Regions from separate parts of the Homo sapiens genome. Here region 1 is linked to region 2. A link means that fine-mapping ties the variant in region 2 to the expression of a gene that starts in the linked region. Tissue or cell type: monocytes. Region 2 holds a variant in brackets; the other region holds the start of a gene. All regions are shown on one strand. Distances are from middle to middle. Region 1 holds the start of SARAF (store-operated calcium entry associated regulatory factor). Region 2 overlaps LEPROTL1 (leptin receptor overlapping transcript like 1).

What was found.
Region 1: SARAF starts here. The variant in region 2 is fine-mapped to the expression of SARAF in monocytes (TOPMed, PIP above 0.99). The same link has a PIP of 0.9 or more in blood mononuclear cells.

The regions. Positions count from the first base shown.
Region 1 is chr8:30,077,947-30,086,288 of GRCh38, forward strand. It overlaps SARAF (store-operated calcium entry associated regulatory factor), which reads right to left and starts at 5,118. Exons shown (of 6, transcript NM_016127.6): 1 at 4,901-5,118. The coding sequence starts at 5,003. RefSeq lists an enhancer at 4,682-5,031 and a silencer at 5,072-5,441.
Region 2 is chr8:30,101,798-30,110,139 of GRCh38, forward strand. LEPROTL1 (leptin receptor overlapping transcript like 1) reads left to right here. Exons shown (of 4, transcript NM_015344.3): 2 at 101-176; 3 at 2,503-2,689; 4 at 3,949-6,727. The coding sequence ends at 4,065. Among named protein-coding and RNA genes, the nearest start is that of LEPROTL1, 11 kb to the left of the region's middle. The variant G/A (reference allele first, on the strand shown) is at 3,073.

The DNA of each region.
Region 1 (8,342 bases), 24 kb before region 2:
CTGGCAAATATGGTGAAACCCCGTCTCTACTAAAAATACAAAAATTAGCCAGGCATGGTGGCGGGCACCTGTAATCCCAGCTACTCAGGAAGATGAGACAGGAGAATCGCTTGAACCCGGGAAGCAGAGGTTGCAGCGAGCCGAGATGGTGCCACTGCACTCCAGCCTGGGGGACAGAGCTAGACTCCGTCTCAAAAAAAAAAAAAAGAAAGAAAGAAAAAAGACAGTAGGAGGAAAAAAAAAAAAAAGAAAGAAAGAAAATTACCAGTTCAGGACCAGTTCAGAAAGTCCAAAAATCCAACAAGGGCTTCTGAAAGAATGAACAAGGGAATCTGATTAGACAAACTCCAGGCTGTAATTCAAGAAAAGTTCCCACACTGAAGGACTTGAGTTGTCATACTGAAAGGGCCCAACAAATACCCAGGCCTGAGAAACAGACCACACAAAGGCACACGAAAAGTAAATTTTAGAACACTGAAGACAAAAAAAGATTCTACAAATTGCCAGAAGAATAGGGAGAAAACAAGCCATATAGAAAAGATAAGACTTAGAAAAGCTTCAGGTATCTCAACAGGATAGAAAAAGAAAATGGAGAAATATATTCAAAAACTCTAAAGGAAAAAGTCTGGCTGGGTTTGCCAACCATCGCTTTGCTAATGGTGGAACAAACTGATGTTACAACATCTCCTATGATGTATTTCCCACAAGTATTTAATATGAATCTAATCAATCTAATAAACTTAAGGTCAATACCCTATCTATATAAAAAATATATATAGAGAGAGAGACCTAAATATACTTCCAACCAGGAACCCAATAGGGTTTTTTGGGGAAAGAAATTATGTTAAAGGTCCTGTGGACAATTTTTTTTTGAAAAAGAACACATAGGTTACCAGATAGTAAAGGTTACTATAAAATTATTATCATCAGCCAGGCACGGTGGCTCACGTCTGTAACCCCAGCACTTTGGGAGGCCAAGGAGGGCAGATCACCTAAGGTCAGGAGTTCGAGATCAGCCTGGACAACATGGTGAAACCCCATCTCTACTAATAATACAAAAATTAGCTGGACGTGGTGGCATACGCCCGTAGTCCCAGCTACTTGGGAGGCTGAGGCAGGAGAATCACTTGAATCCAGGAGGTGGAGGTTGCAGTGAGCTGATATTGCTACCACTGCACTCCAGCCTGGGCGACAAGAGTGAAACTCCATCTCAAAAAAAAAAAAAAAAAAAAAGATTATAATCAAAATAGTAGGGAATTGGAACAGAGACAAGGAAATTGTGAAACAAAAGAAAGATCAGAAATAAATCAAGATACATTTGGGAATTCAGTAAGATGAAGTGGTCTTTTTAATTTAGTGGATAAAAGATGTCTTCTTTAATAAATAGCACTGGCATAATTGACTATGCAGCCACAAGAAAATCCACCTAAAGCTATATAAAAATTTAATTCCACATGGGCTACAGATCTAAAATTTCCAAGAACTATATTCAAATAAACCATGCTACATTAAACACAAACTACTACCTCCTCATACATAAAAAATAAGACAATGAAAATGTTCAATGGTTTAGAAAAATCAGACTGTATTAATCAACTAAATAACAGAAATAATAAATTGAATTTATTGTAACAGAGTTGCAATAATGCAAAGAACACTGAACTAAGTTGGTGTCACTAACTGGCTGTGACTTTGGCCAAGGCATTTAATTTACCTGTGTAGAAGTTTCCTCACCTACAAAATTAAAATATTATCAACCTTGAAATTTGTTGTGAAGCTTAGATATAATTTATTATCTGGCTGAGTACTTGAAGCATAACAGGTGATCAGGTATGATAAATATTACTGAAAGTTTTAAGATGGAATAGCATTACCATAATCCTATAGCATCTTTCTTCCCTAGAGATTCTTAAGGTCCAAGAACAAAATTCTAATACCCACGCCCCACTAGTTAGATCAGTCAAGGGACACAGGAGCTCCCTGAACTCCAGACTCATAAATCAAAATCACGGCAGGTCTCAAACAAGATAAACAAAACCAAACTCCCCTAAACCTGATCATCCCACATTCTTCCACATCTCAGGAAATGGTTAACTCCATGCTTCTAGTTGCTCAAGCCAAAAACCTTGGACTTCTCATCTTCTCTCCTCTCACTCCTACATCTGATCCTTCAGAAGATCATGTTAGCTCCACCTTCCAAACAGGTGACAAGAGAATCCAGCTACTCTAACCAGCTCTCTACTGCTCCTGCCCTGGGCCAAGCGGTCACCACTCTAAGAACTTACTGTACAATATTAAAATAGATAGCAATATATATTAATTCACTGGTTTCCCTGCTTCCCTCCTACCCTCTTCGGTCTGTTTTCCACAGAGCAGCCCAAATGAGCCTTTAAAGATATAAGTAATTTCAGGTCATTTACTCCTCCTCCCCACTTCAGGTTTCCAGTCAAATGTCACCCTAACAGTGACTTCCCTGACCAATGTACGTTTTTTAAGTCTCCACTTCTGCCCGCACACCATGTCCTCCTTACGCTGTTTATCATACACGGTGCATACCAATTTTCACAATATAGCATGTTATTTACATGTTTATCTGTTTATTGTCTATTTCTCCCCAATAGAGGTAAAGTCCTTGGAGGCAAGACACTGTTTTGTTCACTGCTATATTCCCAACACCCGGAAGAGTAACTTAATATAAGATTACATTCAATAAGGAATTTTGAAAATTCATTGGTAATCTCTTTAGAATGGTGCTAATTTTTTTTTCCAGACAAATTACTGCTCAATGTGAGCTAAAGTAATGGCATCCAAGTCAAACAAAAGATAAATTAGGGAGCCGATTAATGCTTTAGTAAAGGACTTAATAAATAGTATGTCAATAAAGTATCTTCATTTAAAAAGTTCCTCAAAGTGCCGGGTGCGGTGGCTCACGCCTGTAATCCCAGCACTTTGGGAGGCCAAGGCGGGCGGATCACCTGAGGTTGGGAGTTCAAGACCAGCCTGACCAACATGGAGAAACCCTGTCTCTACTAAAAATACAAAATTTGCCGGGCATGGTGGCACATGCCTGTAATCCCAGCTACTCGGGAGGCTGAGGCAGGAAAATCGCTTGAACCCAGGAGGCAGAGGTTGCGGTGAGCCAAGATCGCGCCATTGCACTCTAGCCTGGGCGACAAGAGTGAAACTGTCTCAAAAAAACAAAACAAAACAAAAAAGTTCCTCAAAGTAAACTTTGAAGTAGAATTTACATAAAACAATTGAGTTTACTCTGCAAAATATTGTGGTGCTTTGTGTTCCAGAACAATAGTTTTACAGCGTAGATAAACCAGGAAGTGGTTCATCTTTAATTTAAATTTGGTTCTTCTTTCATAGTTTTTATAGTTCTTCTGGCTCTTCAACTGTAAACTTCCTTTATTAAATTTATTTACGAACTGATTCAAAGTTCAACAAATTAAAGTTTCATTCTAGGTTTTCACTTGTAATTCTGATCAAGTCTCCCACTCATACACAGCTTTCTAGAAATACAAAAGAAAAACGTACAGACATTTAAATACAACTTGGCTTTTTATTTTTGGTAATAAAATGTCCACATCAAATGACTACTCAACGTGATGTGCTTGCAAATAGCACCTTCTCTCTCATTTCAGCATGTAAGAATAGGCTATTATAGAAATAAACCTGTTGCTTAAATTCGACAATGCAGGCATTTCCAATCACCAAATCACAAAGGCAATATGCTTTCCATGCCATCTTTACTTCGCAAAGCAAAAATGATGTTGTTTTCATTTTTTTTTTTTTTTACAGAATTCCAAAGTAACAGCATGCGTCATTTATTACATGGAAAAAGTCAAAATCTGTATCTAAGTATATAGACATATACGTATTAATTGCACGGAATATTACTGATCCCATGAAAATTCTTTAGACAATTTTAATACTGTACTGACATAAAAGAACCTCTTTCCTAAAACCCACTTATCATGTACCATCACTAAAAAAAACCGAGAAAATTATTTTTTAAATTCTTCTCTACGGTGAAAGCCAATGGGAAGAGCTGGTGCCGCGCGATGTACATCACTGCAATCGTCAGATAAGAGGCAGCGGTTCTCATAAAGACGCGGTGGCTCACGCCTGTAATCCCAGCACTTTGGGAGGATGAAGGCGGGTGGATCACGAGGTCAGGAGGTCGAGACCAGCCTGGCCAACATAGTAAAACCCCGTCTCTACTAAAAATACAAAAAAATAGCCAGGCATGGTGGTGGGCACCCGTAATCTCAGCTACCGGTGAGGCCGAGGCAGGAGAATCTCTTGAACCCAGGAGGCGGAGGTTGCAGTGAGCCGAGATCACGTCATTGCAGTGCGGCCGGGGCGACAATGTGAGACTCCGACTCAAAAAAAAAAAAAAGAGTGCAATCTGCGATTCTGCTAACAGACCTGCGAGGTCTGCAGCCCTGTCCGCTAAGGGTGACTCAGAGACTGCCAGTGGCAGGCAACGGCCGGCGATAGCAACAGGCAGCCATGACAACAGCAGGCCACGATGACATCACACAGCCATAACAACAAAGCAGATGCGCAGGTGAGTGTCCAGCTCTCCAGTTATACTCAGAGATGAGAAAGACGACAATGGGCAAATTCCGGGAGTCCGGGGCAGGGAGAAAGGGGACCTTAAGGATCTCCAGCCGTCCCGCCCCGCCCACTCGAGCAGTCCCTACCCGCCTCCCAAGACGCCTGGGAAGAGCAGTGGAACCAGGGAGAGCACGAACAGCAAAGAGGTCAGACATGGGGAATCCGGGCACCCAGGCTCCGGGAAGACGGCGCACGGAAACGCAGGGGAGCCTGCACCGGCTGACGGCGGCGGAAAAGGGCGAACGAAGCGCCTGAGGGCCCTGGCAGCACTCACCAGGGTCGTTCCAGCCCAGGGCAGGGCCCGCGGTCAGCAGAAACAAATGCAAGCCGAGGAGCAAGCAGTACCCGGCCGCTCCCGGCCCGCAGGCTGCGGCCATGGCGCTCGATGAAGATGGCGCCGGGCTGCCAGACGCCTACGGGCCGAACCTGGGTGCGGTAGCGCGCGCGACGCTGCGCAGCTACACCGCTACCCCTGGCGGCGGCGAAGGAACGGCCCGACTGCAGAGCTGCAGCCGCAACGGATCCGTGCGCCAACCCTACGTCACTGCCGCTGCGGCCCGTGGGGCTCAGTGAGTGGCCGCCGTGGGCCCCCGCCCCTGGAGCACAGCGCGGCTTGGGGCGGGGCGAGGCGGTGTGGGCGGGGCCAAGGGCCTGGGGAGGCACGGCTGGAGGCGGGTTGGAGGCGTGGCGCCGCGGTGTGGGCGGGGCCGAGGGCCTGTCGCCGCCGCGCCCGCGGGCGGGGCGAGGGCAGCGCGCAGCTTTGTTGTGTCTCGTCTGAGATTCGGGAAGCTTCTGTGCGTAGGCGATGCAGTTTGAGAGGCTGAAAACGTCACGACGCGAAATCTAAGAAATGTAGTCAAATTATGTATTATTAAAACCTCAATAATTGTACCAAGGGTAGTTCTGTGCTTTATTCAGCTCTATGTGTTCAGCACTTAGCATAGCGCTTGGTACATGGTTAGTGTTCTATGACTGGTTGCTAAATACAGAGAAGATTCAAGCGAAAAGTAACAGGGAAATACATTGTCTGGTTTCAAGGCTCAGAACCTTTACATGGTTCCTTGCGCATGGAGGCCGGAAGACTATAAAATGTCAAGAGGAGAAAATATCGTCTGAATGAAGAACCAGCCAGAGAAAACAGTTCTCTGGGCTTTTGAGGTCTAGCAGGCTTGGGTTTCTTTCATTCATTCATTCATTCATTCATTCATTCATTCATTCAATGAATATATGTTGAATACCTAATACGCACCAGGCACTGTTTTAGGCATGGATGGTACAGACAAGATCCCTGTACTCATTGAAATAGAATAGGACAAACGACATACCAATTAAACAACAAAAATAATAGGTAATGATAGGTAATAACATTGATGAAAAACAGGGTGATATAATGGAGCCTGGGGACACAACTTCAGGGAGGGCCTTGCTGAGGAAGTGGTTTTTGAAGCTTGGGACCTGAATGATGAGAAAGAACTAGCCGTACAAAGATCAGGGGACTCATCTTCCCATCTGGGGAACAGTGGATGCAAAAGCCCTAACTTTGTGTTTCGAGGAAGAGTTATTTGGTCAGATCCTATAAAGAGTTCAGTCCCACAAGATGGCCCCAACTTCAGACATCAATCACAAGTCTCAGGTTGTGACCTATGCTTCTGACCAACCAGCTATAAATTAGGGTTTCCAGGCCGGGCGTGGTGGCTCATGCCTGTAATCCCAGCATTTTGGAAGGCCAAGGCAGGTGAATCGCCTGAGGTCAGGACTTTAAGACCAGCCTGGCCAGCATGGCAAAACCCCACCTCTACTAAAAATAGGAAAAATAGCTGGGCGTGGTGGTGCACACCTGTAATCCCAGCTATTTGGGAGGCTGAGGCAAGAGAATCGCTTGAACCTGGGAGGCGAAAGTTGCAGTGAGTCAAGACTGCCCCACTGCACCTGGACCATGGAGAGAGACTCCCTCTCAACAAATAAATTGGGGTTTTCATAACCCCCCATCTTGAGTTCCATAATTTGCTAGAATGGCTCACAGAACTCAAAAAAACACTTTATGTTTACCAGATTATTATATTGAGCACCTATTAGTACCTAACAGTACCTGCCAGGCACTGTTATCAGTATTGGGGATACAGCAGTGAATAAAACAAAATTTGGGGGACAAGAGGCAAACAAGGCCATAACTGAAGCAAAGTAAGTTAGGGGAAGAGTGGAATAAGAGATGGCAGAGCAGTGGGGCCTCGGCATGGAACCAACCAATGCTGGGACCAAGGACTGAAATAAGAGATAATAGAGAATCTATGCTCAACATGTTAAGTTTGAGGTGACTATTAGGCATCCAGGTAGACGTGTCAAATAAATAGATAAACTGTAAAAGTCTGAAGTTCAAAACTAAGGTAAATTTGGTAGTTATGTTGTAAATATAAAGATAGCATTTAATGTCATGATGCTATTGTTTGAATGTGTCCCCCAAAGCTCATGTGTTGGAAACTTATTCCCCAAAGCAATAGTGTTGAGAGGGGGGACTCTTAAGGGGTGATTAGGTTATGAGGGCAGAGCTCTTAATGCTATTATCACAGGAGTGGGTTAGTTATTGGGGAGTGGGTTCCCGATAAAAGGGATGAGTTCAGCTCCCTTTCTCTTTTGCCTACCACCGTGAAATGACACAGCAGGAAGCTCCCCACCAGATGCAGGCCCCTGGACCTAGGATTTCCCAGCCTCCAGAACCATAAGAAATAAATCTCTATACTTTATAAATTTCCCAGTCTCAGGTATTCTGTTATAGCAACACAAAATGAACTAAGACATGTGGGAAGAGACACAGTAACATGAGAGAATTGAGATACCACAAAAAAGGAGGCCCAGGCTATGGAAACACTAACATTTGAACCTCAAGCAGAAGATTCTAGAAAGAATCTGAGAAGTAACCTCTGGTGAAGAAGGAGGAAGAACTAGGACAATAGGATATGGTAATTGAGAGAAAGAAAGAATGGTCAACAGTGTCCACTGTTGCTGAAAGCTTGAAGCAAAATTTGGTCTCTGAATTTTGCAATGTAGAAATCACTAATTACCTTAACAAGAGAATGTTTGTTATTTTAGATTCCCACCATGTACCATGTACAGTTCTGGACAGTCATGAACAAAAGATGAAAGGTTGTTATAATAAACATTCTAGTGGGAGAGGTAGCCAACAAATCATGTCATTTCAAATAAATAAGTGCTTTGGGCCAGGCACGGTGGCTCACACCTGTAATCTCAGCACTCTGGGAAGCCGAGGCTCAGGATCACTTGAGACCAGGAGTTTGAGGCCAATCTGGGCAACATAGTAAGACCCCATCTCCACAAAAAATTGTTTTTAAAAAATTAGCCAGATGTGGCCAGGCACAGTGGCTCACGCCTGTAATCCCAGCACTTTGGGAGGCCGAGGTAGGCAGATCATGAAGTCAGGAGATCGAGACCATCTTGGCTAACACAGTGAAACCCCGTCTCTACTAAAAATACAAAAAATTAGCTGGGCATGGTGGCGGGTGCCTAAGTCCCAGCTACTCAGGAGGCTGAGGCAGGAGAATGGTGTGAACCCGAGAGGCGGAGCTTGCAGTGAGCCAAGATCGCACCACTGCACTCCAGCCTGGGCGAAAGAGTGAGACTCCGTCTCAAAAAAAAAAAAAAAATAGCCAGATGTGGTGGCATGTGCCTGTAGTCCCAGCCACTCAAGAGGCTGAGGTGGG
Region 2 (8,342 bases):
GATTTTTGCTTCTGAGGTTACAGATAATGTTCAGACTGCTGATATTAATAAAAATAATATTTAATTTATATTCCTGTTGCACTTTTTATTTGCTTTGCAGCTTTGATTAGTTTGTCCTTTGGAGGAGCAATCGGACTGATGTTTTTGATGCTTGGATGTGCCCTTCCAATATACAAGTATGTAAAATGTTTGTCTTTCTGAATATTTAAGGGTAAAATTTTTCTACTTTTAAAGCTTAAAAAAATGTTTTTTTACTACTGTAAAAGTAATGCAGAGAAATGTTCACTTACCAAACACATACCTTTGTAAAAATCACCACTTAAAGTTTGTTTCTAAAGATTTTAGGACACCAAGATGCAAATAATATTTTTGGCTGTTACCTGCTCTTTCACTACTGCTGAGTCTGCAGTGGCAAGATAGCTACACAGTACCTCAGCCCTCCTGCTCAGTTTTTAACATCTATTGATAATACTAATTACAAGAAAATTTAAAATGTCTTTTTGCAAAAAAATACCATAAGCAGTCAAAACACAATTAAAAAAAAAGAGAGAGATGTAAACAATTACTTTCCGGCCGGGTGCGGTGGCTCACACCTGTAATCCCAGCATTTTGGGAGACCAAGGCGGGAGGATTGCCTGAGGTCAGGAGTTCAAGACCAGCCTGGCTAACATGGTGAAACCCCATCTCTACTAAAAATACAAAAAAATAGCCAGGCGTGGTGACACATGCCTGTAGTCCCAGGTACTCGGGAGGCTGAGGCAGGAGAATCGCCTGAACCCAGGAGATGGAGGTTGCGGTGAGCCAAGATCACGCCACTGCACTCCAGCCTGGGTGATAGAGCAAGACTCTGTTTCCAAAAAAAAAAAAAAAATTTCTTTCCTTAGGATAGAAAGAACTTCTCAAAGTTAACATTTTAACATTTAGATAAATTAGAAAAAGATGGACAACTCAATAGAAAAATAAATACAAAAAGAGAACTACAAATTGCTAATAAGCACATAAAAATATCCCCAGCCTCACTCAAAACTAAACAAAATCTATTGACAAAGACAAGAGACAGGGCAAGCAGGGACTCTTTTGTGCTGTGGGGGGAGTACACATAGATAGTTTTCTTGGAGATAAGTTTGCTTGTAGCTCTCAAAGTATATATTCTTTGAGTTAGCCCTTTCACTTGTTAGACTTTCTGATACAAACCCACTTGCAGATGTTTACAAAGATATATTTAGTGGGGGAGAGTATGGATGTTCAAGCAGCCTTGTTTATTTTTTGGTTTTTGTTTTTGTTTTGTTGTTTTATGCGTTATTTATAAGAGCCAAAAAAAATTCTGAAAACATCCTAAATGTCCTTCAAAAGAAAAATGGTTAAATTATAGTAAATCTTTTAATGGAAATACTAGGCAGTCTTAAAAAGAATGAGGAAGAGCTGTAAGTGCTAACATGTAAATATGTTCAAGACATATTGTTAGAAAACTGCAGGGACCCATTCATATTTTAAAGTTTATGTGGAAATGTGGAAGGGTCCCTGAGAAGCTCAATAGGAAAGTGGGCAAGAGGAGATTTGGAACTTTTAGTCTTTACTTTTTGTGCTTTTGTACTGTTTGAATTATTTTTCTTAAGCATATATTCAATTTTTAATTTTTTTTCTTAAAATATTTAGGAAATGGTCAGGCGCAGTGGCTCATGCCTGTAATCCTAGCACTTTGGGAGGCCAAGGTGGGTGGATCACCTGAGGTCAGGAGTTTAAGACCAGCTTAGCCAACATGGTGAAACTCCATCTCCACTAAAAATACAAAAATTAGCCGGGCATGGTGGTGCACGCCTGTAATCCCAGCTAGTCACGGGGGCTGAGGCAGGAGAGTCACTTGAACCCAGGAGGCAGAAGTTGCAGTGAGCCGAGATCATGCCACTGCACTCCAGCCTGGGCAGCAGAGCGAGACTCTGTCTCAAAAAAAAAAAAAAAAAATTTAGGAAACATAAGTAGCTGCTTATCATTAGCCTCTGTACAATCAGATCTCCACCATGATACCTATTTTATTCTATGGTAGTTTTAAGGGCATCTATTTCTTTTTAACTTTTTATTTTGAAACAATTTTAGATTCTGAAGAAGTTGTGAAAATCATACACAGAGGTCCCCTGTACCCTCCACACAGCCTGCCAGAGTCATAAGATCTTACATAACCATAGTTATCAAAACCAGGAAATGACTGTGGTACAATACAGTTAACTAGATGTAGAGTAAAAGCCATCTATTTTTATTGTGATAAATTCTATATTCTGACTGAAAGTGTTCTTACTTTTAGCTTCTTTTCTGTATTTTGATTTCTGTAATTTGGGAGTTCCTCGTGTTGTAAGGGAAGTTTAGGGTTGTTTCAGCTTTATGCTAAGGTTGGGTATCATCCATTAGAAGTCAAGCGATTGAATCTTGATTTTTTAAAAAGACCATATTTTGTGTGTAGGAAAATGACATAGCAAAAATTACATTAACTTATTTTTCTTTTTCTAGCAAATACTGGCCCCTCTTTGTTCTATTTTTTTACATCCTTTCACCTATTCCATACTGCATAGCAAGAAGATTAGTGGATGATACAGATGCTATGAGTAACGCTTGTAAGGAACTTGCCATCTTTCTTACAACGGGCATTGTCGTGTCAGCTTTTGGACTCCCTATTGTATTTGCCAGAGCACATCTGGTAAGTGAATATATTCTTCCATTAATGATTTTATATTGAACATGTGTTACATTTTTCTCAAGCAAAGTTTTTGTTAATGACATGAAAAGAGGTGAAAGACATAAGAGCCTAGAAGATAGAGATTAAAATCTCACTTTATTGTTTGTTCTTGTTAACTAATAAAAGTGATATTGGAGAACGTGGCTTGGATCTGCAGCAGCTGTTGGCTTGCTAATACTTTTTTTTTTCTTTTTTTTTTTTTTTTGAGATGGAGTCTTGCTCTGTCGCCCAGCCTGGAGTGCAGTGGCGTGATCTCACCTCACTGCAAGCTCTGCCTCCCGGGTTCACGCCATTCTCCTGCCTCAGCCTCCCGAGTAGCTGGGACTACAGGTGCCCGCCACCAC[G/A]CCCAGCTGATATTTTTTGTGTTTTTAGTGGAGACGAGGTTTCACCGTGTTAGCCAGAATGGTCTCGACCTCCTGACCTCGTGATCCGTCCGCCTCGGCCTCCCAAAGTGCTGGGATTACAGGCATGAGCCACCGCACCCGTCTGGCTTGCTAATACTTAACTGTCAGAGTTGAGCATATCAACTCCCCCAGTGCTGAACAACCCAGGCCTATCCTGTAAAACCTAAAATATGGAAGACCTGAGAAGGTGCATGTGCTCTGCAGGCAGAAAAGCACTGAAGAGGGGAAGGGGCTGGCTACGGGTACTCAGTTCTTCCTCCCAAACTCACTGATCCACGCGCCTTCATCTCTGGGGAGGTAGAGAAGACAGCCATATGGAGAAGGCAATTGTTTTCCCACCCCTTCAAAAGAATGTACATGGGTGTGTTTCCATCTGTGATATGCTAAAATTTAATCTACTCTAGATAGATTTTTATATTAAGGAAGAGTAAGCACATTCCTTTATAAACAGAAACTTGTAGAATTTTATGCTGCTTCTTCATAGCCCAGAAGTCAAGCTTGTTTTTGAATGGTCATTTCATGACTTTCTTTTTAAAGGAACCAAAGGTAAATGAAAATACTAGTATAAAAGTACCACTTTTATACTATAAATATATTTATACTGTATATATTTATATATATTTATACTATATATTTTTTTACTATATATATTTATACTATATATATTTATAAGTATGTGTTCAGCACTGTGACAATTATTGTTACAAGGCATGCTTCTTTTAGATCATAATTGGGATACAACTAGAGCCTTGATTTTTTTTTTTATTTTCCTTTCGTTTTTCATGCCTGTTGACTGAGTGTATCTTATTTCCATAGATTGAGTGGGGAGCTTGTGCACTTGTTCTCACAGGAAACACAGTCATCTTTGCAACTATACTAGGCTTTTTCTTGGTCTTTGGAAGCAATGACGACTTCAGCTGGCAGCAGTGGTGAAAAGAAATTACTGAACTATTGTCAAATGGACTTCCTGTCATTTGTTGGCCATTCACGCACACAGGAGATGGGGCAGTTAATGCTGAATGGTATAGCAAGCCTCTTGGGGGTATTTTAGGTGCTCCCTTCTCACTTTTATTGTAAGCATACTATTTTCACAGAGACTTGCTGAAGGATTAAAAGGATTTTCTCTTTTGGAAAAGCTTGACTGATTTCACACTTATCTATAGTATGCTTTTTGTGGTGTCCTGCTGAATTTAAATATTTATGTGTTTTTCCTGTTAGGTTGATTTTTTTTGGAATCAATATGCAATGTTAAACACTTTTTTAATGTAATCATTTGCATTGGTTAGGAATTCAGAATTCCGCCGGCTCTATTACTGGTCAAGTACATCTTTTCTCTTAAAATTATTTAGCCTCCATTATTACAAAAAATTATAAAAATAAGTTTTCAGTCAGTCAGGATGACATCACTCCCAATGTTATGCAGACATACAGACGGTTGGCATACGTTATAGACTGTATACTCAGTGCAAATATAGCTGCATTTATACCTCAGAGGGGCCAAGTGTTAATGCCCATGCCCTCCGTTAAGGGTTGTTGGTTTTACTGGTAGACAGATGTTTTGTGGATTGAAAATTATTTTATGGAATTGCTACAGAGGAGTGCTTTTCTTCTCAATTGTTAGAAGAATTTATGTTAAACTTTAAGGTAAGGGTGTAAAAACATTTTTGAGATAAGGTTTTTATTTATGTTTATTATTGTTAGAGTGAGTTGCAATGTGGGAAGAAATGACATTGAAATTCCAGTTTTTGAATCCTGTTTCTATTTATAAGTGAAATTTGTGATCTCCTATCAACCTTTCATGTTTTACCCTGTTAAAATGGACATACATGGAACCACTACTGATGAGGGACAGTTGTATGTTTGCATCATATATGCCAGAAAACCTTCCTCTGCTTCCTCCTTTTGACTTATTTGGTATGTTGTATATATTACATAAAATAACTTTTCAAATATAGTTTAATAACACTTAGAAGTGTTTACTTACCTGGAAAATAATTGCTATGCCGTACATTCAGAGTGCCCCCTCCCCTGCAAGGCCTTGCCATGATTAACAAGTAACTTGTTAGTCTTACAGATAATTCATGCATTAACAGTTTAAGATTTAGACCATGGTAATAGTAGTTCTTATTCTCTAAGGTTATATCATATGTAATTTAAAAGTATTTTTAAGACAAGTTTCCTGTATACCTCTGAACTGTTTTGATTTTGAGTTCATCATGATAGATCTGCTGTTTCCTTATAAAAGGCATTTGTTGTGTGAGTTAATGCAAAGTAGCCAAGTCCAGCTATATAGCAGCTTCAGAAACATACCTGACCAAAAAATTCCCAGTAACCAGGCATGATCAATTTATAGTGGTCGTTTACATCTAATAATTATCAGGACTTTTTTCAGGAGTGGGTTATAAAAACATTCAAGTTGGTCTGACAGTATTTTGTTAAGGATATTTGTTTGTATGTTTATTCAGTATACTTACATAAAAATTATTTCGCCATCAGCCAAAACTCAGTAATCATGACAGCTGTCTGTTGTTTTATGAAGTTTATTTCTCAAGAAAATGGGAATAAATTTGGGATTTGTTCAGCTTTTTTACTAAAGATGCCTAAAGCCACAGGTTTTATTGCCTAACTTAAGCCATGACTTTTAGATATGAGATGACGGGAAGCAGGACGAAATATCGGCGTGTGGCTGGAGCCTTCCCACTGGAGGCTGAAAGTGGCTTGTGGTATTATAATGTTCAGATTTCAAGAGGAAGGTGCAGGTACACATGAGTTAGAGAGCTGGTGAGACAGTTGGGAACTCTTTGTGCTTGTGATCTACTGGACTTTTTTTTGCAGGAAGTGCATTCTCTGGTCCTTCCCTATTTTCTGTTCTGGATGTCAGTGCAGTGCACTGCTACTGTTTTATCCACTTGGCCACAGACTTTTTCTAACAGCTGCGTATTATTTCTATATACTAACTGCATTGGCAGCATTGTGTCTTTGACCTTGTATACTAGCTTGACATAGTGCTGTCTCTGATTTCTAGGCTAGTTACTTGAGATATGAATTTTCCATAGAATATGCACTGATACAATATTACCATTCTTCTATGGAAAGAAAACTTTTGATGATGAAACAATAAAGATTTTAAATATCTATTTTAGTTTGTGGGTGTTTTTGAAATGAAAATATATGGCACACTTTCATTCTGAAGTGCATTAACATTCTAATAAGGTGATGTAAAGCAAGATGACATTGGTGTAATGTTAGAGTTGCAGAAGTTTCCATTCCAAAATAAAATGGAAACCATAGTTACAGATATTACAATGCAGCCCTGTAATTTTGAGCTGTAGTAAAAGGATTGGTAATCTGGGAAGTAGAATTTTTACAAAATCTTTTACAAAAATAGTCATAAAAGGTTTTGTTGACATTTAAGACTACTACTGATCTAAAGGCAAGGTCCTACTTCTTAAATTTTCAGAACATTTTTATGACTTCTTATTATGTATTTATTACCACTCATTATTATAGCATGTTACTTTTTGCAAACATTTTAAACAAAAAATATTTCTGTTTGGTACACTGTGAAGAGAGAAAAGTACTGTTCTGTATTTTCAAATATTAGTCGTGTCCCAAATTGTCCTAATTATAATCTTATCATATACTTTAAAAAGTTTAGGCTGTGGACACTAAATGTCTGCTCTAATATGATTTTGGGGACATTGTCAATACAGATTTTTTTTTTTTTTTTGAGACTTGCTTTGTGCCCAGGCTGGAGTGCAGTGGTACGATCTTGGCTCACTGCAACTGCTAGGTTCAAGCGATTCTCATACCTCAGCCTCCTACGTAGCTGGGATTACAGGCATAGGTCACCACACCTGGCTAATTTTTGTATTTCTTGTAGAAACATGGTTTTGCCATGCTGGCCACACTGGTCTCAAACTCCTGGCCTCAAGTTATCGCCCTGCCGCTCAGCCTTCTGAGTAGCTGGGATTATAGGCCTGCACCACCACGCCTGGCTAATTTTCGTATTTTTTGTAGAGATGGGGTTTTGCCATGTTGGCCACGCTGGTCTCAAACTCCTGGCCTCAAGCCATCACCACCACAACCCCCCTCAAACCACCCCCCCGCCCCGAAAAAAAGTGCTGGGATTACAGGCGTGAGCCACCACACTTTGGCCAAAATAATCCAGATTTCTAAAGTCTAGGATATTTATATTGAATGTGACTAGATTTTTAAGTTTCAGATAACTTTTAATCAATGCACCAAAGTTAACAAGCAACACAACGTTATTGTTAAGTGGTATGTGTGTTTTAGATCCCAGGATGCTTTATGATGTATACGATTGGTGGGAAATTGAAATTCGTATTTCTTCTCTATAAGCTTGTATTGCCCTTTCTTTCAGTGAAGATTAGGAGCTCTGATTTTATTACAGGTCTGTTCATTTTATGGCATTCTCAAGGAAGAAAACATGTCCTGTAGGTAAATATTTTAGATCAATGAAGCTTAGCTTACTAAGAACTAATGTTTGTTTTACTTTAATCATTTGATGAAAGTATTAAATGGATTGTACACATGTGCTTTCTTAGAATATATTAAAACACTTTAATTTTTCCTTGGTAATTTAGGACTATCATCATAAACTATTTCCCCCCCATTGTAAGTGGCTGCCGACCTGTATTTTTCTGGAATTGTGTTTTTGATCCTTTTCATACAACTGAGTATTTGTTTCTAGCACCCCTTAACTTATTTTGTTTCCAAGTTGCTGACTTACAGTATATTAGGAAGAGTGGAAAGTGGTCAAGAAAAAAATAAGGCAACCAAGCTTATTAAATCAATTATGTAACATTTCTGTACACAGTACATCAGTGGACTTAATTAGGGTGCCTCCTACCTCTTACACAAATGAAATGCTTTGTGACAGGTATTCTTCCTCTTGAAAGGCTTTTTTAAGAAAAAAATAATTTTTAACTGTATACTAGATAATCTGAGATTGCAAAAGGAGCACCAGATAAGGGAGGTGTTACCATGCTGTGCAGCAGAAGAAGGCTTATAATTAAGTTTACTACACTTTAATGTTGGGGTTATTCTGAGCTCAAGATACTCATAGACCTTTGTCTGATTTCCAGGGTCTTATATCTCACTTCACCCTTTGTGTTTAGTTACTGAAAGTTTAGGGATGAAGATAGATTTACAGTTTATTTTTACAAGAAACTTTATACTGTATGCTT